3 separate regions of the Homo sapiens genome follow, and regions 2 and 3 are each linked to region 1. The links come from fine-mapping of genetic effects on gene expression. A gene starts in region 1. Each other region holds a variant in brackets. All regions are shown on one strand. Distances are between the middles of the regions. Region 1 holds the start of EFCAB14 (EF-hand calcium binding domain 14). Region 2 holds the start of LOC124904171 (a long non-coding RNA gene). Region 3 overlaps P3R3URF-PIK3R3 (P3R3URF-PIK3R3 readthrough).

Region 1 (8,353 bases):
TCCCAGGCAGGGGCCTGGGTGTCGGCACAGGGAGAGGAAGAGAGAGTTTGCATGCCAAGTCATGAAACAGGCCTCTTGCCTGTCTCATGTGAGGGTCTACACTCACCTTGTATCACCAGGCCTAAGGGAATACAACATTAAATAGTGAATAATAAACAGGAAGACAGGTTGAGAGAGACAGCAGAGAGAGAAAAGGAACCCTGCATTTGCATTTGCACTGGTCCTCATAAATTATGTAGCCAGTCCTGGGTACTATGATTGCCTCTATTTCACTGAGGTGGCAATCATAGTGGACACTGAGGCTCAGAGAGGCTCAGTACTTTGTCCAGGATCACACAGCTGCCAAGTGGCAATGTTCAGACACAGACTTAGATCCCAGGTAAGAGAGGACTCCAAGATCTTAAAGAGCTTTCAGCCCAGGAATTAGGAGAGCTGGATCCAATTTTTGACTATGACCTTGGCAAGTTTGCCCCTACTCTGTGCCTCAGCTTGCCCAAGTGAAAGCACTCTATGGAGTCTTCCAAAGTAGCACAGGGTCTCAAGATTTGGCTTTGCCAGTTATATGGGCTGTGATTTTGAGCACAGGGAAATCATCTTTGCCTACCTTCCCCATAGAGTTGCCAGAAGCATTCAGCAGACATGTACCCACTCTGCATGACACTTCACAGCATGTAAAGCACGCCCATGCTACTCCCTGCCCCAAACAACATGAAGCAGAAGACTGGGCTAGGAATATTATCATCCCCATATCACAGACAGAAACTTTGAAGCGCCAGAACTCTAAAGTGACTTCCCCAAACTCACTGCATTTCAGGCAAGTTTTGAGTAGGTTAACAGACTCCCCAGGATCATAATATGAACAACCCCAAAGGAGAAGATGGATCACAACCTTGGGAGTCCTGGTGTGGGAGGGCAGCAGGAGGCCCCACTCTGAGTGGGGTGGCTTAATCCCTGGCCTTGAGGGTCCCGGGTCTGAGGAAGGAGGCCAGAGAGGTATCCAAGAGCTCCTGAAGGAAAAGAAACAGCTGGCCAGTAACTTTCAAAGGGTGACAGCATCCTGTGTGATGTCTACCCAACAAGGAGGGGTGTTATCTACAGATCATAAGCAAACAGGCAGACAGAAGGACTGAGAGGCAGATCCAGCAGAAGCATTCCCCTGTTTGTCAATTCTACTCCTGCAGCCTCCCCACCCATGACCAGCCCACTGGCCAGTCATGGGAGAGATCTCCACCCACAGAGAGCACAGGCTCTGGCTGACCAGAAGTCCCTGCAGCGGGGGTGGTATGTCCTCAGCCCTGCCCCACTCCCCTGGGTTCCTCAGTCCCTGGTTCCCTGGGAACCTGTATCATCTACAACAAAGGAGGGCCACCCCACCCTCGGGCCAGCCACCTCTCCTGCCTGGGGCTTCTGGTGACCACAGGATGTGTTTCAGAAATGGTTCTTGAAGTCAGGAGCCTCACCTGTCTATCCCCAGTCCTTCAGGGAAGCATTAGTGAAGAACTCTCCAGTAAAACTTTCTGTGGTGGTGGAATTGTACTATTACTTGCTGCCTGGTAGCCACTTGCCACATATGGCTACTGGACACTGTGGCCAATGATACTGAAGAACCAATTTAAAATTTGTATTTTGTTTTAATTATGTTAAATGTAGATTTAAATTGTTATATGTGGCCAGTTTGGCTACTGTATTGGGCAATGAAGCTCTAGAAACAAAAGGGGACAATACACCATGACTTGGGGCTTCAAAAACACTTTCACATTCATCTCATTGTCCTGTGAAATAGGTGTTTATCCCCATTTTACAGAGGAGAAAACTGAAGCTCAGAGAAACTAAACGGCTTCCATGCTGATGGAGCCAGGAAGAAGTAGAGACATGATTGAGTCCCAGGTTTCTTGATTTTGATTCCAAAAGTCCACTCATACCTCTTTGCAACACTGCCCACTTATGTAGTCATCACATATTTATTGGGTCATCGTTATTTAGGAGTACACTTCTGGGCTAGACACTTAAAAACAAATCAGATACAGGCCCAGGCTTTGCGAGAATCCTTGGACAAAAGCAGCGTAATTGCCACAGTAAGAATATGGGCATAAAAATTACTTTAAGTGACTTTCTTCCAAGTAGCTCAAAGCACTTTGCTTTAAATTCCATTTATATCTGATGACTTCCCAATTGATATTTCAGGCCCCAACCTGTGCCCAGAGAACTCTCAATGGGTATACCAAACAGCCTCCATTTGAATATTGAATTGGCTTGTCAAACTTGTCCCAAACTTGCTCTACCCCATCTCAATAAATAACAATTCCTTGCTTCCAGTGTTTCCACCGCCAAACCCTCTCTTCTCTTCACACCTTTCATCTAATCTATCAGCAAAAATTGTCAGCTCTGTCTTCAAGAAACATCCAGAATGCTCTCCATCTCTGCTACTGCCTCTCTAATCTATCAGCATCATCTCTAGCTGGACTGTAACAAACTGCTCTCCTGTGTTCCTCACTCTCCCCCCACTTTTTTCTACAAAGTAGCCAGAGTAATTTTTTCCTTTATTTTATTTTATTTTATTTATTTATTTATTTATTTATTTATTTATTTATTTATTTATTTATTTATTTTTGAGACGGAGTCTCGCTCTGTTGCCAGACTGAAGTGCAGTGGTGCAATCTCGGCTTGTTGCAACCTCCGCCTCCCGGTTTCAAGCCATTCTCTTGCCTCAGCCTCCCAAGTAGCTGGGATTACAAGCGCGCACCACCACGCCCAGGTAATTTTTGTATTTTTAATAGAGACAAGGTTTCACCATATTGGCCAGGATGGTCTCCATCTCCTGACCTTGTGATCCGCCCACCTCAGCCTCCCAAAATGCTGGGATTACAGGCGTGAGCCATCGCGCTGGCCCAGAGTGAATTTTTTTTTTTTTTTTTTTTTTTACGGAAAAGCCAGAGTATGCTACCTCTCAGCTTAAAGCCCCCAGTGCTTTCCCAAAGTCCTTTCAGTGATCCATAAGGCCCTAAAGCCCTGGCCTCTGATGCTTCTCTGACCTCATTTCCTATCACTCTGCTCCTTGCTCTTCTGGTCCAGCCACAACAGGTCTTCCTGGTCACTCCTTCCTGCAGCCACTGCACAGCTCATTCCCTCACCTCTCCTCCGATAAGCTGACTAAATGTTCCCTTTTCACAGAGGCACTCCCCATCACCTGACCGTGTTTCAATTTTCATCATAACACTTATCACCTCCTGACATTTAATATGTTTGCCTATTGTTGCTCTCCTCCCTCTAGAGTATAAATAAACTGCAGGAATAGATTGGCAGATAAGATACACGATGCTCAGTTAAACTTGCATTTCACATACACAATGAATAATTTTTTAGTGTGAGGATGTCCCAGATGTTGCATGGGATGTCTTAATGCTAAAAAATTGTTTGCTGTTTCTCTGAAATTCAAACTTTACTGGGTGTCCTACATTTTTATTTGCTAAATCTGGCAACACTATACAGGAAGACAAGGACCCTGGTTATTTTGTTCATGGCTGTATCCCCAGCGCTAGAACAGCTCCTGACACGTAGTAAGTAAGCTCTCAATAAATATTTATTGACTGAATGAATGTGTTAATTAATCTGAAACGCGCCTAAACTTTTAACAGCCTGTGTGAGAGTCAGAGAGGCGGAGCCTTCAGACTTGGTTAGTCCAGGGGGCGTGGGCGGCTGATGAACTTTCGAAGTAGGTCGAGCAGCCGGGCGCTTTGCCTGCCCCGCCCGCGCTCCGCAGGATGCAGGACTCCACCCGGCTCAGGTTCGCAGCAGGTCCCGGAAGCCCTCCTGGGGGCGGGGCCACCCTAATCGGCAGGTGGGACCCAGCCCCAGCCGGGGCAGGGCCCCTTTAACGCCCCACCTCTCCGCCACGACTTTCGCCCCGGCGTGACGTCACCCCAGCGGGCGACCAATGGGAGTGCGGCTTACTGGCAGGCGGCGCAGGCGGCCGCTGCCAAAGGGGAAGTGATCTGGGGCTGGAGCGATGGCCCGGGGCTGGAGCTCGCGGCCGCCGCCGCCGCAGCCGCCGCCACCAACGCCAACAACAACGTGTCGGGAGCAGCCGCGGCCGAAGCCGGAGCAGGGGCCGGAGTCGCGGCTGGAGTGGGGCCTGCGCGTGTGAGTGGCCGAGAGTTGCCCGTGCCGGAGACCTCAAACTCCGGGCGGGAGCGCTTTCGGTCGGCCGAGCCGCCGTCGCCCGCGGCACCGTGTCCCCAAGGCCCAGACAGCGGGGCGGGGGTCTATCAGGCGCGGGACTGGCTTCTCTCAGGCCGACCCTTCTAGCCGGGCTCCGGATCTTCCTCGGCCTCGGGCCCCCTTCACGTTCAGGACGGAGGCCGGAGAACGGTGATCATCACACACCCCAGCCGGCTTCCTGGCCAGGGCATTTTCTCTGCGGCCAAGCAGTGTTGGGATTGTAGCTGCTGGGAGCCCCCTCCTGCCGCCACCTCTCCTGCAAGGAAGGGACTGACGCGTTCCCACTTTCTTACTCTGCACCTCCCCACTCTCTTCCCATTCAAGAACGAGTTTCTCTTCCCTCTCCATTGGAAATCTTGCTCCGGAGGTCCGAAACACGTATTTTAAGCGTGCCCTTCCTCACCTCCTGGAGCACCCTTAGAAGTATTGCCTACTTATCCGGGCTGAGAATCCTTCATTTTTGACCTGGCTTTTTTTTCGCCCTTTGGGAGATAAAGGTCCCTCTCCACCCTCTACTAACACTCTGCACCCAAGGCCTTATCCTTTGGGGTCACCAGCTCCTTGGCCATTTCTATGTGATTTCCCCCACCCATCTGAGTTCCAGTTTCCTCTGGGCTCCAATCTCCAGTCCCTGGCGGATCTGGTCAGTCCCACCCCTAGGTGGGAGTGACCAGGGGGCTCTGGCCCAGGATTCCCAACCCTGGAAGGCAGCTCCAAGGCAGGAAGAGAATTGGGCATCGGGTACGAACCTGGCAGCTCAGGAGTCGGGGCTCCACTCACCCCACACAAAAAGATGAAAAAGCGCAAAGAGCTCAATGCATTGATTGGTTTGGCTGGGGACAGCCGGAGAAAGAAGCCCAAGAAAGGCCCAAGCAGTCACCGCCTGCTTCGCACTGAGCCTCCCGACTCAGACTCTGAGTCCAGCTCCGAAGAGGAAGAGGAATTCGGTGTGGTTGGAAATCGCTCTCGCTTTGCCAAGTGAGTAGTGGTGAAAGGTGGAATGGGAAGAAGGCATCTCCTTGCACTACCAAGGGGCCACATTGACAGGAAGGAGAAAGGAAGTCCTTAGGAAGAAAAAAGGGTGTAGGCCTTGGAAGTCAAAGAGGGAAAAACGGTTTTAGGGAGAAGGTAAGTTCAGATCCTGAATGAAGAATAAGTTAGAGATCTGTCTTTAGGTGTAGAAAGAAAAGCTCCAAATCTGAGGTGGAAATGTGGACTTGGAGAATGTGCCAAGAGCCCAGGGAGTCCTAAAGAAGCAAAGAATGGAGACAGAGGAGCAGAGAAGCTTTGGGGACTAGACTTTTTAAAACAGTGTAGAACAAAGGAGAAGCAGAGACTTTAAGACTGCAGATTATTTCGTTTTTGCACTCTTGATGAGTCTGAATATTGGTGGTGGGGAAATATGGTGAGAGATATACTGTAGGAAGTATGAGCCTTGAGAGTAGGTGGGGTCGGGGGGCAAAAGAAGAGGCATCATTTTCCCTAGCCATTCATAGGTGGAGAGACCACTAGGCAAATCAAGTAGTAAGATTTGAGGACATTGGGATTGGGGCTCAGGATGGGAAAGGACTAAAGGGAACTTCAAAAACGTCCTTTGACTCTCTCAGAGCACACTAAAAGAAAAGAGGATTCTGCTGAGGATGTAGAAACAATGGCTAGGCAGAAGGTCGGGGTGCTGACATTGAGTGGTTGGTTGGTTTAAAATGTCTTGTTTTGTTAAAGGAAGAGTTTGATTTCTAATGAGCTTTGTCAGCTAAGGCTGTTAAGGGCAATCCTGGGTTTGGGTTATGAAGATCAGTTGAAGTGTTACCTTCATCAGAAGGTACCTGGAGTAGTAACCCTACTAAGTTAGTTTAGACCTTGAAGGTTGGTTGATGTTTTGTGTGAAATCCAGCCCCTTCTATGTTTCCTTACTTCTGAGCCAATAAGCTAGAATACACCAGGTGTCCACTTAAAACTACAGATCCTGTTTCTTTCATTTCTTTTGCAGTAAAACTTGCTCAAAAGTTTATAAAGTTTCAGTAAACTGGAGCAAGGTTCCCCGGAGTGAGTATGTATTTCAGAGAGAAATCAATAGGCAAATTCCAGTGCAGAGATGGAATTGCAGAGAAACATTGGTCTTTACACTTTTGTGACCTGAGCTTGTATTCAAAGACCTCCCTCCTGATAATGACAGCTGCAGTGCCTTTAGGTTCTTCCTTTTACCTGCAGGAACTCCTTCTGTTTTATGTGACATTTGAAACCTTTGTATCCAGTAGATGAACCCTTAATAGGTCATATTATTTATTCATTTAAGTGCTTTACCCTGCCTCCCCTGGTTAATTCACTGGTTATTCATTTAAAGGAGATAATTGCATGGCAAAACGTGTACTATTGCTAATAAAGCTATACCCATAATCACTTTTGTACTCATGGTTGAATTTGTCCTCTTGAGCAGGGGAGACTATTTACGATGCTGCAAGATCTGTTATCCGCTCTGTGGTTTTGTCATCCTTGCTGCCTGTGTTGTGGCCTGTGTTGGCTTGGTGTGGATGCAGGTTGCTCTCAAGGAGGATCTGGATGCCCTCAAGGAAAAATTTCGAACAAGTAAGTAAGTGGTTACTCTCTTTTTTTTTTTTTTTTTTTTTTTTTTGAGACAGGGTCTTGCTCTGTCGCCTAGGCTGGAGTACAGTGGCGCAATCTCGGCTCACTGCAACATCCGCCACCCAGGTTCAAGTGATTCTCATGGTCAGCCTTCTGAGTAACTGGGATTACAGGTGTGTGCCACCACACCCAGCTAATTTTTTTGTCTTTTTAGTAGAGACGGGGTTTCACCATGTTGGCCAGGCTGGTCTCAAACTACTGACCTCAGGTGGTCCACCTACCTCGGCCTCCCAAAGTGCCAGGATTACAGGCGTGAGCCACCACACCCAGCAGTGGTCACTCTTTTCAGGGTGTAATCCTGGACTCCTTTCCAGGTTCTGGGACAAAGTCAACCCTGCTGAACGAAGATTTTTGCCCATTCTAGTGAAGCAATTATACGTTCCTCTCAGTATTTTTATACTCTTTTTGAGCTCTCTGCTTGAATGTTGTAACACTTATTTGTTTTTAAACTCACAAATAAAAGGCAGTGCTTATGCACCAGCAGGACAAGTAGCATCTGAAATAATGGCATTGCAGTCAATGCTTAGCGTGCAAAAGGCAAGAGACTCCTACCCTAGGGGTAGGAGTCTAGAACTTGGTGTAACCTCTACTTATGGCTTGCATCTCCCCAAGCATAAAGTGGCAATGACAACACTGGGCTATTCCTTCCACCTCACAGGGCCATTTGAGAAAGAATGTGGGAGCATCTGTCAAACGATTGCCTCTTTAGAAGGACTGAATAGGAGCATAGGAATGGGCAATAATAAGAGTAGCTAACATTTGTGGAAGGCCTACTCTGTGCCAAGTCTCAAATCATTTTCTTTACAAAATAATCCGGTGAGATGGGTATTATTTTTATTATTTTGTGCTCTTAGAAGGATTAAGTAATTTGTTCAGTGATTAAGTATGACAGAGCTGAGCGTCCTCTTGCCCCTTGCTGCCCAAATTCACATTTATAACACTACTGTCTGCACCACTGTTCCTGGTGGCCTTGTAAGCCTATGCACATTTCTTCAAGTGCCTACAGATCTCTTTGATATCAACTTGGTCAGTAATCTAAAAGAAGTTTAGTAGAAGAAACAGGAAGAACTGGTTTTCTGCATACTTATCAGTTTTCAAGCTTAGAGCAAGGACTGATAGATTTCTCTCCTTAGCTGTGCTTATACTAGTAACACGATCTCTTTCAAGAAAAAAACATTTAAATACCATTAATGAGTGTTATCATTTTAAAGTTTTAGGAAACTTGAACTAAGTTACATACTCGTGAAGGGCTTACAACAACCATACCTACTTTGAACACTGTGCAACTGTCAGAAATGTTTATCTCATGAGTGAGTTTTAAAGTTTAAGGAGGTTTTGAAGTCACAGAGTTTTGTATATTCTAAATTGTAAAGTTATATTTTACACATCCAAATTACTTTTTCATTTCTTTTTCTTTCTTGTTTTTTTTTTTTTTTGAGATAAGGTCTTGCTTGCTCTGTCACCCAAGCTGGAGTGCAGTGGCATCTGGCTC
Region 2 (8,000 bases), 670 kb after region 1:
CTATATAGCATGTGGCAAACCAGACCTTGGAAGTTTCTTTAATGGGTTGTATAAACTAAATACAGAAGACAGAAAGAAAACAACAGCAAAAAAAGACAACAAAAACCATACACACCAAAAAAAACCACAGAAAACAAAACAGTGACACCACAACAACAACAACAAATATAAGAGTTTAGATAACATCATGGATGACAAATTCATAACCTACAAGTAAGGACAACTCAGAAGTGTAGGGAGACACAGACAGCCATTACCTCTTTTGGAAGGGCTGCTTCCAGGAGAATAGTTCAGTGTCCCATGGTCCATGCTTTGATGTTTCTAACAGAGAATTGTCTCTGGGCTTGGTGGATTTGATCTATTCTAATGCTGGAATTTGTATAGTCGGTCCTGAAGAAGACTGGTAGTAAAATACGTGTCTCATATTAGCATTGCTGCATGATACTGAGTATGATCTCTCTCTGGTCTTGTTTTAAAGGAATAGGGTGGAATTCTGTGATACCTACCTAAAGACTGTCATTAGTTCTTTAAGCCCTCTTTGGATGTGGTCATTTCCTTGACTGGCCACTCCATAGCCCACAAGGATTCTATGTGATTGTCTGCTGAGAGCTTGGTGTACTACTAGTAGGATATTCTTGAGTGTTTAAATACAGAATTTCATTGCTTAAATATAGAAAAAAAATTCTAGGATATTATTCCATTTACTGGAAGCTCAAGAATAGGTAAAACCTATCTATGATGATAGAATTAAAAATAGTGATTATTTATGGTGGGGGTTTTGATGGGAAAATGGGATGAGGAGCCTTTAAGGGTTCTAGAAATGTTCGAATCTTGATATGAGTGGGGTTCCATGGGTTTATACATAGGTAGAAATTTATCAGTACACTTAAGATTAATGTGCTTTATGTGTATTATAACTCAATAAATACATTAAAAATTTCTTAGGTATCAATTTTTTAAAAAATTCCTTTTCAAAAAAAGGAATTTTGTTGTTAATATGCAATTCTTTTTCCTCATGAGTTAAGGCTAGCTTTCATGATTACCATTTACCTTTTTTGGTATTGTAGTCCCCCTTGGTCCATGGTTTTGCTTACTGCGGTTTTGCTTTCCGTGTTTTCTGGTATCCCCAGTCAGCCACAGTCTAGATAGGTGAATACAGCACAATAAGACATTTTGAGAGACCACATTCACATAACTTTTATTCCAGCATATTGTTATAATTGTTCTATTTTATTCTTAGTTATTTATTTTATTTAATTTTTTTTTTGAGATGGAGTCTCACTCTGTCACTCAGGCTGGAGTGCAGTGGCGCGATCTCAGCTCACTGCAAGCTCCGCCTCCCGGGTTCACGCCATTCTCCTGCCTCAGCCTCCCGAGTAGCTGGGACTACAGGCGCCTGCCACCATGCCCAGCTAATTTTTTTATTTTTTTAGTAGAGATGGGGTTTCACTGTGTTAGCCAGGATGGTCTCAATCTCCTGACCTTGTGATCCGCCTGCCTCGGCCTCCCAAAGTGTATTATTTGTTTTTGTTAATCCCTTACTATGCTTAATTTATAAATTAAATGATCACAGGTATGTATGTGTAGGAAAAAACAGTATATATAGGGTTTAGTACTGTCTGCTTTCAGGCATCTATTTGGTTGTCTTGGAACTATTCCCCATGGATAAGCAGGGGCTACAGTATTCATAAACCAAAATTCATAAATTTAAAATAATAACGGCCATAACAATATAGGTACATAATGATGATGGGTTTTTTGATGCATATTCTGCTTAGGGAATTGATGAGTTTTGAGTAATATATATATAGGGGAGTTTGCAGATAAAGGAGTTAGTTCTATGTGGCCGGGTGCAGTGGCTCACACCTGTAATCCCAGCACTTTGGGAGGCTGAGGCAGGTGGATCACCTGAGGTCAGGAGTTCGAGACCAGCCTGGCCAACATGGTGAAACCCTGTCTCTATTAAAAATACAAAAATTAGTCAGGCATGGTGGCGCATGCCTGTAATCCCAGCTAGTGGGAAGCCTGAGGCAGGAGAATTGCTTGAACCCGGGAGGTGGAGGTTGCAGTGAGCTGAGATCGCCCCACTGCACTCTAGCCTGGGCAACAGAATGAGACTCTGTATTAAAAAAAAAAGAAAAAAAAGTTCTGTGGAGGGTGCTGTGTTCTGGTTTTATTTTTTGCTTTTACAACTTTATTGAGATACAGTTTACATCGCATACAGTTCACCCATTTAAAGTGTATTATTCAATGTTTTTAGTATGTTCACAGGTATTTTGTCATCACCACATATTTTAGAACATTTTCATCACCTTAAAAAAAACCCTGCACTGTTTACTTAACATCCCTATCACCTCTTTCATTTAGCCCTAAACAACCGCTAATCCACTTTCTGTGTCTATGGATTTGTCTATTCTGGACATTTCATATGAATGAAAATAATGTAAAATGTACTCTTTTGTGACTGGCTTCTTTCACTTAGCATGGTGTTTTCAAAGTTTGTCTGCGTATGTCAGTATTTCATTCCTTTTTATGGCCAAATAATAGTCTGTTGTATAGTTATACCACATTTTGTTTAATCATCATCAGTTGGTGGACATTTGGGTTGTTTCTGTCTTTTTGGCTATTTCAGTAATGCTGCTGTGAACATTTATGTACAGGTTTTTGGATGGATGTGTATTTTCATTTTTCATGGGTATATGCTGAGGAGTGAAATTCCTGGATCATATGGTAATTATCATTGTGTAGTGGTTGCACTATTTTACATTCACACCAGTAGTGATAATTGGGGTTTCTTAAAGTAATGAATCATTCTTTAATACATTTCTTTTCTTTTTTTGAGACAGATTTTCGCTCTTGTTGCCCAAGCTGGAGTGCAATGGTGCAATCTTGGCTCACTGCAACCTCTGCCTCCTGGGTTCAAGCAATTCTCTTGCCTCAGCCTCCTGAGTAGCTGGGATTATAGGCGCATACCACCACCTCCAGCTAATTTTTGTATTTTTAGTAGAGATGGGGTTTCACCATGTTGGCCAGGCTGGTCTCGAACTCCTGACCTCAGGTGATCCACCTCCCTCAGCCTCCCAAAGTGCTGGGATTACAGGCATGAGCCACCGCACCTGGCTTCATTCTTTAATATATTTCTGATAACTAAATTTTTATAAGTGATTTTTCTTTTTAAAGTATTGTATATGTTATCCCACTTTGTTTTTATGTAGAGAATATGTCTGTCCATAAAATTTGGTGGAAGACAAGTTTCATTCCTCATTTTTTTTTTTTTTTTTTT[G/TG]AGACAGAGTTTCACTCTTGTTGCCCAAGCTGGAGTGCAATGGCACGATCTCGGCTCACTGCAACCTCTGCCTCCCAGGTTCAAGCACTTCTCCTGCATCAGCCTCCCAAGTAGCTGGGATTACAGGCGTGCGCCACCATGCCTGGCTAATTTTTTGTATTTTTAGTAGGAACGGGGTTTCACCATGTTAGCCAGCCTGGTCTCGAACTCCTGATCTCAGGTGATCCTCCTGCCTTGGCCTCCCAAAGTGCTGGGATTACAGGCATGAACCACTGCGTCCAGCTCCATTCCTCATTTTTTTTTTTAATTAAATTTATTCCAAGCTCCCACTGGCCTGGTTACATTAAAAATATTTGATCTCTGTTATCATTCATACCTCCTACACAGACTGACACTTGGATCATGTAAGAATGTCATCCTGAAGTAGTGCCAGAAAATTAGAGGAGCACAAAGTCCTTTGTGCCTCCCTCTTGACTGCTGTCATTGGGTGCTCCTCTGCCTAATCATTGGGTCTTGCCATCTGGCTATTTTAGAAAATTCCAAGGTGTCCTTCACAGTAATCTCATCACTGGCTACCAACAGATGCTGCATCTTAAAACCTCATTCTCCATCCAGGATGCCCTGTGCCTGAGGCACCGTTTTCTGTCACCCCGTTTTCTACTTCAGCCAGGCTCTAAGCTTCTGCTTTCTTCCAGGACGAAGGCGTCAGCTTCAAAGTCGTTTCTCCTGTCCTTCTCTCTCAGGGGCTTCCCAGCTTAATCCTTTTGTCTTAGACTGAAACACAAACTCTCTTCTTAAAGTGTGGTAGTTGGGCTGTAAAACCAATTAGATCTTTAGAAAGGACACTATATAATACATATTTTTTCCCTTACTTGCTGGGGTAGGGCTAGGAAAAGATATGCTAACACCAGCTATTTTTAATCTATGGAAGTAGTATTTTCCTTTTTTTTTTTTTTTAAGAAGAGATTGCTGGGCCAAAGAGAGATGGGTCCAAGACCATGCCAAAAAATATGTATATATAGTATCTTTTCTAAAAATCTAATTGGTTTTACAACCCAATTACCACACCAACAGAATCAGAGCTGGATGTTAGGTCTTTGAATGTTTTGCCTCAGATTTTTCCTGTAGAATTTATTGCATCTATTTGTGATCAGTGCATGATTCGATAACATTAAATGTGAATTAACGTATTTACTAAAGCTATTTGAGGTTTTTGAAAATGGTTTTTAAAATCTAATCAACTCCTGGCATTGTTAATAGGTTTGTAAGGACTCAGAACTAGATAAGTCTTTGAAATGGACTTTTAGGAGATTGGAAAAGTTGCCTAAGTCAGAAGGTAGGCACCATCATAAATGGAGGGTGGAGCAAAAGCAATTTTTCTTTTTCTTTTTTTTTTCAATTAGGAAAGTGTTAGGAAATGAGTTCCTAACATTGTGTGTGGCAGAAAGGGAGGCTCAGTTTAAAGAGGTTGGTGGTTAAAAGAAAATGGGGATTCAAGAGAAAATGTCGTGCATTCATTCAACTCACACTTTTTTACCCAGTGTGCATATTTCTTTGATAAAGAGAAGGTCAGTTTCTTTAAGGATAGAAAACTTTGGGTGATAAGAATGCTTAGAGGAGGGCATCTGGATATTTTGATGACAGACGCGATGGTGTGGGGGAGGGGGTTTGTTACTAAATCAGTTGTATCAAGATCACATATTATCTATTTTCCAGTTTTGCTAAGAATAAAAAATGAAATCCAAGTTAACTAAAGGGCAATTCTTACTGAGAAAGACTGTGAAATCTGTCTAACAGAACTTTAAAATTAGGTGTGATGCCAAGTTATCTTGTATACTTGGGGAGATACAGGATGATCCTGGAGTTGTGAAGATTTTGTTAAAAGCAGCCCACCAGCAAATATTTACTGACAATTGAATGTCTATGTGCATGTGCTGTTTTAATAATTGGCAACATAGCCATGAACAGGACAGACCACTTTCATTACAGCAGCTTACATTTTATTGGGGAGACAGACATAAACAAATACAAATATAAAATAGGCCTGGCACGGTGGCTCATGCCTGTAATCCCAGCACTTTGGGAGGCCAAGATGGGCGGATCACCTGAGGCCAGGAGTTCAAGACCAGCCTGACCAACATGGTGAAACCCTGTCTGTACTAAAAATACGAAAATTAGCTGGGCATGGTGGCGCGTGACTGTAGTCCCAGCTACCCTGGAGGCAGAGGTGAGAGAATTGCTTGAACCCTGGAGATGGAGGTTGCAGTGAGCCGAGATTGTGCCATTGCATTCCAGCCTAGGTGACAGAGTGAGAGTCCGTCTCAAAAAAACCCCAACCAACCAACCAAACAAACAAAAATATAAAATAATGGATTTTAGCTAAGTGCTATGAAGATGATAAAACAAGGTAAAGTGTAGAGAGTGACTGGGGACTGCCTTAGTTGGGACAGTTAGGATAGTCCTCCCTGAGGGGATGGTGTTGATGATGAAACCTGAATGATAGGAGCCTTGCTTGGTGGGTAATGATGAACGAAGATGCTTTCCACTCCACTCTAGTTTTAGACTATTGGCCATCTGAAAGGAACAAAGTGTGCTGGTTTACCTCATTTTACATTTAAAATACTAGCACATTTTAAGATACTATGATTTTTTCTTTTCTTTCTTTCTTTCTTTTTTTTTTTTTTGAGATGGAGTCTCGTTCTGTCGCCCACACTGGAGGGCAGTGGTACAATCTCAGCTCACTACAGCCTCCACCCCCTGGTTTCAAGCAATTCTCCTGCCTCAGCCTCCCTAGTAGCTGGGATTACAGGCATGCACTACCACACTTGGCTAATTTTTGTATTTTTAGTAGAAACGGGGTTTCACTATGTTGGCCAGGCTGGTCTCAAACTGCTGACCGCAGGTGATCCACCTGCCTTGGCCTCCCAAAGTGCTGGGATTACAGGCATGAGCCACCGCGCCCGGCTTGGATACTATGATTTTCTTGGTAATGAAGTTCACTCATATTAATTACTCAGATTGCCACCCTGAATTTCTTGTGGCCTGCTTAAATGCAAAAATAGATCTTGAAGTTTTTAGTTAAAATATTAAACTCAATTCAGTAGGTCACACAGGAAGTGTGTCCTCAGGCTTAGTGGAGATTGCAAATGTGACACCATGCTAACCTAATGTTTTCAGAAACAAATGTCCCACTGTGAGTGCGAGTATGTGTGTGCTTGTGGTGGCACATCCTCCAGAAAAGAAAAATGAAAAGTGAAGGGCCTAATTTCAAGTAGCCCTCTATGTTTCTGCCTTTTTCTGGAAAAGATCAGTTCATCTTGATAGTAGTTGAAAGAAAAGTAATCGAGAGACTAATTTTGGGAAATCTTTGCCCATTCTGTGGGATTAGGAAAAACAAGAGGTGTCTAGACTCTAGAAGTTTAGTTGGCTCAGACATACCTACTTTGTCCAGTCAGAGTTTGCATGGATACTGACACTGGTGTCTTTCCTCTGGCAGATGGCTCAATCACAAAGGAGTGAGACAGAAACGCCTGAATGTCTGGCTGGGAATTAAGAATGAGGATGCTGATGAGTAAGTTCTCTCTATACCTTTCTGTCAGAGGGCTTTGTTATCAATATAAGACATGCGCCTTGTTTATACGTGGTAAATATTGGTTGTCATTGTCACTTGAGGACATTGAATCTAGAACTTTGACTATCTTTTGAATTGAATTGCCTGAAGGTACCCTATAGGCACTGGAGTTCAGAGACCTGCTTCTGAACTCAAAATCTGGATGTGTAAGCTACTTTGAGTATAGCTACCCAAAATCTGGATGTAAAAGCACTTTTATTCAGATGTTCATATTTCAGCTTATTGGATGAAACATGAATTCTTTGCTTTATGCACCATAGCAAGTAATGAAGTTAACACCCAAATAATTGCAATTTTGCTTTGTTATTTGTGGTTTAAAGATTTAGAAGAGTGTTTTATTTATGAATTTGCTTTTAGATAGAAGTAACTTGTTAGAATAATATACTAATATTTAATTTTTAGGAACTATTTTATCAATGAGGAAGATGAAAACCTGCCCCATTATGATGAGAAAACCTGGTTTGTTGAGGATATCAATCGAGTACAAGCAGAGGACTTGCTTTATGGGAAACCTGATGGTGCATTCTTAATTCGTGAGAGTAGCAAGAAAGGATGCTATGCTTGCTCTGTGGTGTAAGTCTTCTCTGGGGATATAACCTTTTGAAATCTTTTGCATCAATTATTATAAAATCAACCCCTCATAAAATTCAGATGAAATTAGTTAATGTACAGTAACGAGGACCCATGGCTCGGACCATAACTATTAGTACAAAAAAACCCAGCTTTATGAGAAATGATATCTGAAATTATCTTGGAGTTTTAATTTACGTGGTAAGTAGATTAGGCCCCGCAGTATTGCTGTTGGATTTCAGGTGTCTGTGAAAGGTAATGTGAGATCTTAAATTGAAAAAAAAAAAAAAAAAAAAAAAAAAAGCACTTAATTGTTTAGTAGTATCCTATATGTCTAGTATGGTCTCCAGTGTCAGATTAGGAAAAGCTTGATTAAATAGAACTGTTTTTACTTCAGAAGGAAAACTCTATCTAAAATTTTAAATTACATATTATTCTGTTGATGTAGTGACAGGAAATGTGGGCGTGTTTTCCATAAGATAATCGTGACTTTTTTGAGAAAAGCCTATTTTCCTT
Region 3 (8,000 bases), 640 kb after region 1:
ATCATTTGAAAGTAGATTGTCAACGTGATGCCATATGATGACCATGTTGTGTGTATTTCCCACAAACAAGAACATTTTCCTACAGAAGCACAATATAACCATCAAAATCAGAAAACTAACACTGCTGTACTACTACTATGTCATACTCAGATCCCATTCAAGTTTTGCCCATTGTCGCAGTGTTGTCCTTAATAGCAAAAAATATCCAGTCCAGAATTACACATTGCATTTAATTGTCAGGATTCTTTAGTCTTCTTCAATCTGAAACATTTCCTCAGTCTTTCCTTGACCCTCATGACCTGTACATTGTTGAAGATTACAGGTAAGTTATTTTGTAGAATACCCCTCAATCATGGTTTGTCTGATGTTTCTTTATGATTAGATTCAGTTTATACATATTTGGCAGGAATGTCACAGAAGTGATGTTACATCCTTTTTAGTGTATTGTATTGGGGCCCACAGTTTTGCCATTATTTCTAATATTAACCTTGATTCTTGATTAAGGTGGTATTTGCCAGGCTTTTTCACTATTATTGTTTTTCCTTTTGCAGTTAGGATTTTGTGGGACAGTATATTGAGATAACAGTAATCTTGGTCCTCATCGATCTTTGTTTCTTTTATTTATTTATTTATTTATTTATATCTGCATGAACACATATATTCCTATTTTGTTTAATGAGTTATATTTCTTTACTATTATTATTTGTATTGATATGCCAGCTGTTCCAGATTTGGTCAGTGAGAGCCCCTTCCAGTTCGCTGTTTTGTTCTTTTAACATAGCCTCTCCCATTCTTTGAGCACTTCCTTCCTTTTTGGCACATGATGATGTTCAGGCTCATTTGGTACTTGCTCTATTCTGTCCCTGGAATCAGCAATTTCTTCAAAGAGCCCTGGTTCCTTTTAGTAGAGAATGGTATTAGAAAGCAAGGTCTAGGTGCTCAGTGTACATATTGGGGTGTTGTTGCCCCCAGGACCTCTCAGGGCAGCAGTCCCCAACCTTTCTGGCACCAGGGACCAGTTTCATTGCTGGGGTGGGGTTAGGCTGGGGGTATTGGTTTCAGGATGAAACTATACCACCTCAGATCATCAGGCATTAGTTAGATTTTCATAAGGATCACACAACCTCGATCCCTCACATGTGCAGTTCACAGTAGGGTTTGTGCTTCTATGAGAATCTAATGCCGAAGCTCAGGCAGTAATGTTCACTTGCCCACTGCTCACTTCCTGCTGTGTGGCGCTTTTCCTAACAGGCCGTGGACCAGTGCCAGTCCGCAGCCCGGGGGTTAGGGAATCTCTGTCTCGGGACAGAGCTAGGGAATATATGTATTCTGTGTATAGACATTTACATATTTATGTTTATATACATTGAAATTCATGAGTTGATATCTGTAGCTCTAATTCTAGTCCAAGACAAGGGGGTTCATTCTATTACAGTTGAGCAAATTATTAATAACATAACCATCATTTCATAGTTACCCTTTTTTTTGGTAGTAAGAATACCTAAAATTTACTCACTTGGCAGATTACCAGTATATAATACAATGTTATTAACTATAATCCTCATGTTGTACATTGGTCACTTAGTGGCTTTTGGACTGAGTTGTTTGGAAAAGGGGTTGCATGTTGTCTTTTGAGAGATGTGAATGAAGTTTTACAGACTTAGAAGTCAATGTTTCATAAGAAGGAAAAAAACAAATATCTTGACGTTTTCACTTTTTAGGCAATCAAAAGGATTCCTTCTGTTGCTAACATTTAACATAAAATAATACTCAATTTGATTGATAATTATTAGAATCTTAACATACCTTGGTTAGTGAGCTGCTCCTGAGGAAATTAGAAAACAGTAAATAATTTACATCTACAGAGTAATATTCATTTCTCTTCTAGCTCTTCCACCAAAGCCACCTAAGCCAATGACTTCAGCAGTTCCAAATGGAATGAAGGACAGTTCTGTTTCTCTTCAGGATGCAGAATGGTACTGGGGGGATATTTCAAGGTAACTAGAATGCTACTGTAATTGAATGCAGTTTTTTAAAAAGTCATTTTTGAGAATTAGTAGTTAAAGTAAACCATTTTAAGCTGGGCATGGTGGCTCATGCCTATAATCCCAGCAACTCAGGAGGCTGAGGCTGAAGAATCACATGATACCAGGAGTTCGAGGCTGTAGAGAGCACTCTGTTGCACTCCAGCCTGGGCAACAGAGTAAGACCCCCAACTCTCAAAAAAAAAGAGCATTGTAATGCTCTACTAATTGTTATTTAAAGATTACCATTTAAGGCCGGGTGCAGTGGCTCACACCTGTAAGCCATGCACTTTGGGAGGCTGAGGTGGGTGGATTGCCCGAGCTCAGGAGTTTGAGACCAGCCTGGGCAACACAGTGAAACCCTGTCTCTACTAAAATACAAAAAATTAGCTGGGCATGTTGGCATGCGCCTGTAATCCCAGCTACTTGGGAGGCTGAGGCAGGAGAATTGCTACAACCTGGGAGGCGGAGGTTGCAGTGAGCCGAGATAGTGCCACTGCACTCCAGCCTGGGCGACAGAGTGAGACTCTGTCTCTTAAAAAAAAAAAAAGAAAAGAAAAAGCTCACTTAAAAAATTTTGCATGGGAACGCTTCATTAGTGTCTTAATACTTTTCTTCCCATGAAAAAGTGACAAGAAAATCTTCATTATTTATTTGTTTTGAGATGGAGTCTCACTCTGTTGCCCAGGCTGGAGTGCAGTGGCATGATCTCAGCTTACTGCAACCTCCGCCTCTTGGGTTCAAGCGATTCTCCTGCCTCAGCCTCCCAAGTAGCTGGGATTACAGTCATGCATCACCATACCCTGCTAGTTTTTGTATTTTTAGTAGAGACAGGGTTTCACCATGTTGGCTAGGCTGGTCTCGAACTCCTGACCTCAGGTGATCCACCTACCTTGGCCTCCCAAAGTGCTGGGATTACAGGTGTAAGCCACTGCACCTGGCTGAAAATCTTTAAATTATGGGTGTGATTATTACTTCTAATACTATATTGAGGATGGATTTCTAAATAAGTGACATGTAGACATTTAGGATAGTTACATGTGTTTTAGAATTAAAAATATTTGTGGGTACTTAACATTTCTGTACCTTTCTTTCTCTTAAGCCAGTGGTTCCAAAGTCTTTGCATGCACAAAAATCAATTGAGGTGGAGCCCAGGAATCTGCATTTAATAGATTCCCTGGGTGAATTTGATGCAGTCTCTTTACACACCCCAGTTTGATAAACAGGACTCTAGGACAGATTTGTTTTCTGGGTAAAGTGTAGTTTTAGGTAATTTTGAACCTAAAGAGGGAATTATATACATTTAATTTGAATATTGTATTTTCTTACTAAATTTTTTTCTTGTTAAACTTGCTTTAGTGGGTCTCAGATGTATTTTCTTTTTAAAGCCCTATCCATTTCTGTCAAATCAGTTTCCAGGTTGATGCTGTATTCCTCAGAACACTTACCTATCCCTTTCTCTTCTCTGTTCTCTTCCTCTACCAAAATGGTATTTATTTAATTTTTTTTTACCCTTACGATTTCAACTATTTTAAGAGTACATTTGCATTGTTGTGCAGCTATCATCACCATCCATCTCCAGAACTTTTTCATTTTCCCTAACAGAAATTCTGTACCCATTAAACAATAACCCCCCATTCTCCCCTCCCTCAGCTCATGGCAACCACCATTCTGCTTTCTGTCTTATGAATTCAATTGTAGGTACTTTGCATAAGTGTAATCATATAATAATTGTACTTTTGTGACTGGCTTATTTCACTTTCTTCATACGTCTTCAAGGTTCATTCATGTTGTAGCATGTGTCAGAATTTCATTCCTTCTTAAGGCTAATATATGTATATGTTATATATTTTTTTAATCCATTCATCTGGACATTTAGATTGTTTCTAATTTATGGCTGTTGTAAATAATGCTGCAATTAATATTGGTGCACACATATCTGAGTCCCTGCTTTCAGTTATTTTGGGTATATACCCAGTAGTGGAATGGAATTGCCAGGTCATATGGTAGGTAATTCTGTGTTTAACTTTTTGAAGAGGACTTAATATGTTTTATTAAAAAAATTTTTTTTTTGAGATAGAGTCTCGTTCAGTCCCCCAGGCTGGCGTGCAGTGGTGCAGTCTCAGCCCACTGCAACCTCCGCCTCCCAGGTTCAAGTGATTCCCCTGTCTCAGCCTCCCAAGTAGCTGGGATTACAGGCGCTTGCCCTGCCACCAC[G/A]TCCGGCTAATTTTGTATTTTTAGTAGAGACAGGGTTTCATCATGTTGGCCAGGTTGGTCTCGAACCCGTGACCTCAAGTGACCTCTCTGCTTCAGCCTCCTAAAGTGCTGGGATTATAGGCGTGAGCCACTGCACCCAGCCATTTTATTTTAAAATTGGTTAGAATATTTCTATTTTAATATTGTACAATAAAAGTCTTTTTTTAAATTTTAAGATCATGTGGTTCTGATATGATTCAAGGGTCTTTTATGCCCTGCCATTTCCTTTAAGTGTTCTAGTGTTGTGCCTTAAAGTCCTAAATCAACTCTACAGAAGGAATTTGTTATCGGGACAAATTCAAACTAGGAGACTATCCTATTGAAAGGTTATGAACTTAGTGAATTTTCCCCCTTCTGTTCAGAAACAGCTGCCACTGTTGCTTAAATATAACCTTCTTTCTAAACAGCCACTGTTTTTTTCCTGAAACTTTACAAGTTCAGACCTGCCTAAGGAAACCCTTAAAGGCTTGATGGAAACAGTATCTCTTACACACATTTGAAATCTGGAAGAGTTTAAAAATCAAATAGCTCTTCTGTAGATTGCGTAACACCAAAAATCAAAACAGAAAGAGCATATTTAATGCAGGGAAGAACTAAATGACCTCTAAATGGCTCCGTTATTCTATAACCTCAGGCACACCTACTGCCGAAGCTGCCTTAGTAGTAACATGTAAAGAAGGCACACCTACTGCCGAAGCCACCAGTGTTGACATTTTTTCATTTTTCTTATAATTCTGTTCTTCAGGGAGGAGGTAAATGACAAATTGCGGGATATGCCAGATGGGACCTTCTTGGTCCGAGATGCCTCAACAAAAATGCAGGGAGATTATACTTTGACTTTGCGGTAAGTACTTTTCAGTCTTTTGGCTAGTTCTCTACTGATGTTATTTTAGTTCTGGGTATACAGATATTTCTGTATTTAAATCTTTATCTATACAATTTTTCATATTTTCATTTAATTTATGTACATAATTTCCAGTCTGGCTAATTCTTTTTTCTATACATTAAGTATTTAAACATTTTGTATAAAAATGGCAACTTAAAAAAATGTAGAAAGAAAATGAAAAGGTTAAAATCCCAAAATGTAAGGGAGTAGGAAGCATACTGTTGACCTTATAAAGGAAGTAGAAGTCATGGGCATATTCTAAGGGTAAAAATGAATCTATCCTTTGAATAACCCTATTATCTTCCTTAATGCAGACTTTAGAAAGCAGAACTCAACATAATTTTGGTTGATGAGGATATGCTGAAGATAAAGCAGTTCCTAGCGTATATCATGCTTTTCATATGGGCATATTTAGAGTCTTTTAAGTGATGGATATATGATTTTTTAATATTTGCACATATTTTTAAAAGGTTAAGAAAACTGCATGAGAAATTTCCACATTTAATTTTAATAATTAAAGTAGCCCAGTTACAATAAAGCCTTATGATTTTTTTTAAAAAGGAAATATTTAACAAAAAGAAAATAACAGTAACAATAACAATGACTAACTTTCTTGTACTAAGGCCTTTACATGCAATAGATCATTTATTCTTCACAACAACCTTATGAGGTAGGTATTATTACTATTCCCATTTTATAGATGAGGTAACTAAGGGTTAACATGGTTAAGGAACTTGCCTAAAGTCACATAGTTAGAAAGTGGTAGAGGAAGAGTTTAAATCCAGATTCATCTGGCTGTTTGCTGCCTTTCCAGCCTAATATCTTTAGGAAAAATAATGCCTCATTTTATGCTAGTATGGCATAAATTTGGAGGCACTATTTTAGTTTCTGGTAAAGAGCTAAAGAAATTAATACCTTTGCACTTGAATTGTGCTGACTAATCAGTGTTCTACAGTAATTCATTGAACACAATTTTTCCTCTACTCCACTCAGGCTTCTGTCTCCACCACTCCACGGAGACTGCTAAACACTTTTCTCTTCTTACCTTACTTGACCTCTTAGCAGCATTGGTCATAGACACTTCTTCTTAGAAGCAGTTTATTGTTTTGGCTGTTAAGACGTCACACTTTCCTGATTTTCTTCCTAACTTTAAGCTATTTTGCTCAATATCTAAATTTTAAGTGTTCCAGGGCTTGGGACCTGGGCCTCTTTTTCTTCTCTGTATTCATTCTCTTAAGGTGAGCTTGTCCTGTCCCATGGCCTTAATATATGTGATGATTAATTTAAGTGTCAATTTGGCTGGATTACCTAGAGAACTGGTAAAGCATTATTTTGGATGTGTCTGTGAGGGTGTTTCCAGAGCAGATTAGCATTTGAGTCAGTGGACTGAGTAAGGAAGATCGCCCCTCAGTGTGAGCACCATCCAATTGGCTGAGGATAGAACAAAAAGAAAGAAAAAAATTTTATCTCTCTGTCTTGGAGCTGGAGCACACTCTTATTCTGTCCTTGGAAATCAGAACTCCAGCCTTTGGACTCCAGGACTTATACCAATCCTCCTCACCCCCTATGGGTTCTCAAGGCCTTCAGTCTTGGACTGAGAGTTATACCATTGGCTTCCTGGGTTCTGAGGCTTTAGGAATTGGACTGAGCCACACTACTGGCATGCCAGCTTGCAGATGGCCTGTAATGGGACTTCTCAGCCTCCATAAACATGTGAGCCAATTCCCCTGATAAATCCCCTCATATTTATCTTTGTCTCTCTCCTATTGGTTCTGTCTCTCTGGAGAACTCTGATTAACACAGATTTGGTACCAGGAATGATTCTAGAGGAAGGTAATTTTTTTTTTTTTTAACACAGGTTATTGCTCTGTCTCCTAGGCTGGAGTGCAGTGGCATGGTCATGGCTCACTGCAACCTTAACCTCCCAGGCCTAAGTGATCCTCCTACCTCAGCCTCCTGGGTAGCTGGGACCAAAGGCGCATGCCACCACACCCAGCTAGTTTTTGTGTTTTTTATTTTTTGTAGAGATGGAGTCTCCCTGTGTTGCCCAGGCTGGTCTCAAAACTCCTGGGCTCAAGCAGTCCTCCTGCCTCGACCTTCCAGTGCTGGGATTACAGGCGTGAGCCACTGTGCCCAGCCTGAGGAAGAGAATTTTAAGGATGAGTTTCCTTAATTAATTTTGGGGTTCCCGGAATTGGCTCTCTTAATTTGATGAGACTTAAAAATGCTAAGGACCCTACTTCTAATAGTACAGAGAGCACTGACAGTCCATGCTGTGAACTGTTTATATAGCGATATGCTAAATATCTGCATTTGATACTTCTAATTTACCACCTATAAGAGGCAAGGAACTTGGCAACCCTGTATTTGATACTGTCAAACGTTTGTAGAAAACCAAGGTTTTCTAATATTGCTGGACGAAGTGATGAAAGAAAAGGGTGAGCTCAGGGTTTTGATTTCCTGGCCCCAGCTCTGCCATAAATAGCCCAAGAGCTTCTAAATATGCCCTAAGTCAGAATCTTCTCTTCTGTTGCCAAAGGTCTGAAATTGCACAAAATCAAACACATACTCTCATCATGTGATTAGCTGAATTACAATCAAAGGTGAAATATCAGCCTTGTAAGGTATCTGCTGTTAAAATGAGGGCATTGGTTGGGAAAGATGGAATTCTATACGTTTGGATGGGGATGTGTGGGAAGACCCTGATGAGGCTGGGGACGTTGAGCTCCTAAATTCTGATGAGTCTTGTTTGCCAGCAGAAATGGCCTCCCACCCCCAGTAACAGCATCCCCCCTACACTGGCCTTTCCACCTTTGTCTGAGGGGATTGACTCT

The links. PIP is the estimated chance that this variant, and not a neighbour inherited with it, causes the effect.
Region 2: its variant is fine-mapped to the expression of EFCAB14 in whole blood (INTERVAL, PIP 0.98).
Region 3: its variant is fine-mapped to the expression of EFCAB14 in whole blood (INTERVAL, PIP 0.98).

Annotation. Positions count from the first base shown.
Region 1 is chr1:46,714,746-46,723,098 of GRCh38, reverse strand. It overlaps EFCAB14 (EF-hand calcium binding domain 14), which reads left to right and starts at 3,985. Exons shown (of 11, transcript NM_014774.3): 1 at 3,985-5,196; 2 at 6,656-6,804. The coding sequence starts at 5,012. RefSeq lists silencers at 3,761-3,810, 4,131-4,180.
Region 2 is chr1:46,045,405-46,053,404 of GRCh38, reverse strand. It overlaps P3R3URF-PIK3R3 (P3R3URF-PIK3R3 readthrough), which reads left to right. Exons shown (of 10, transcript NM_001303427.2): 8 at 6,780-6,854; 9 at 7,317-7,487. It overlaps PIK3R3 (phosphoinositide-3-kinase regulatory subunit 3), which reads left to right. Exons shown (of 10, transcript NM_003629.4): 8 at 6,780-6,854; 9 at 7,317-7,487. LOC124904171 (a long non-coding RNA gene) reads right to left here and starts at 1,176. Exons shown (of 3, transcript XR_007066061.1): 1 at 1,051-1,176; 2 at 258-400. The variant G/TG (reference allele first, on the strand shown) is at 3,284.
Region 3 is chr1:46,074,639-46,082,638 of GRCh38, reverse strand. P3R3URF-PIK3R3 (P3R3URF-PIK3R3 readthrough) reads left to right here. Exons shown (of 10, transcript NM_001303427.2): 2 at 1,889-1,997; 3 at 5,026-5,124. It overlaps PIK3R3 (phosphoinositide-3-kinase regulatory subunit 3), which reads left to right. Exons shown (of 10, transcript NM_003629.4): 2 at 1,889-1,997; 3 at 5,026-5,124. Among named protein-coding and RNA genes, the nearest start is that of PIK3R3, 54 kb to the left of the region's middle. The variant G/A (reference allele first, on the strand shown) is at 4,242.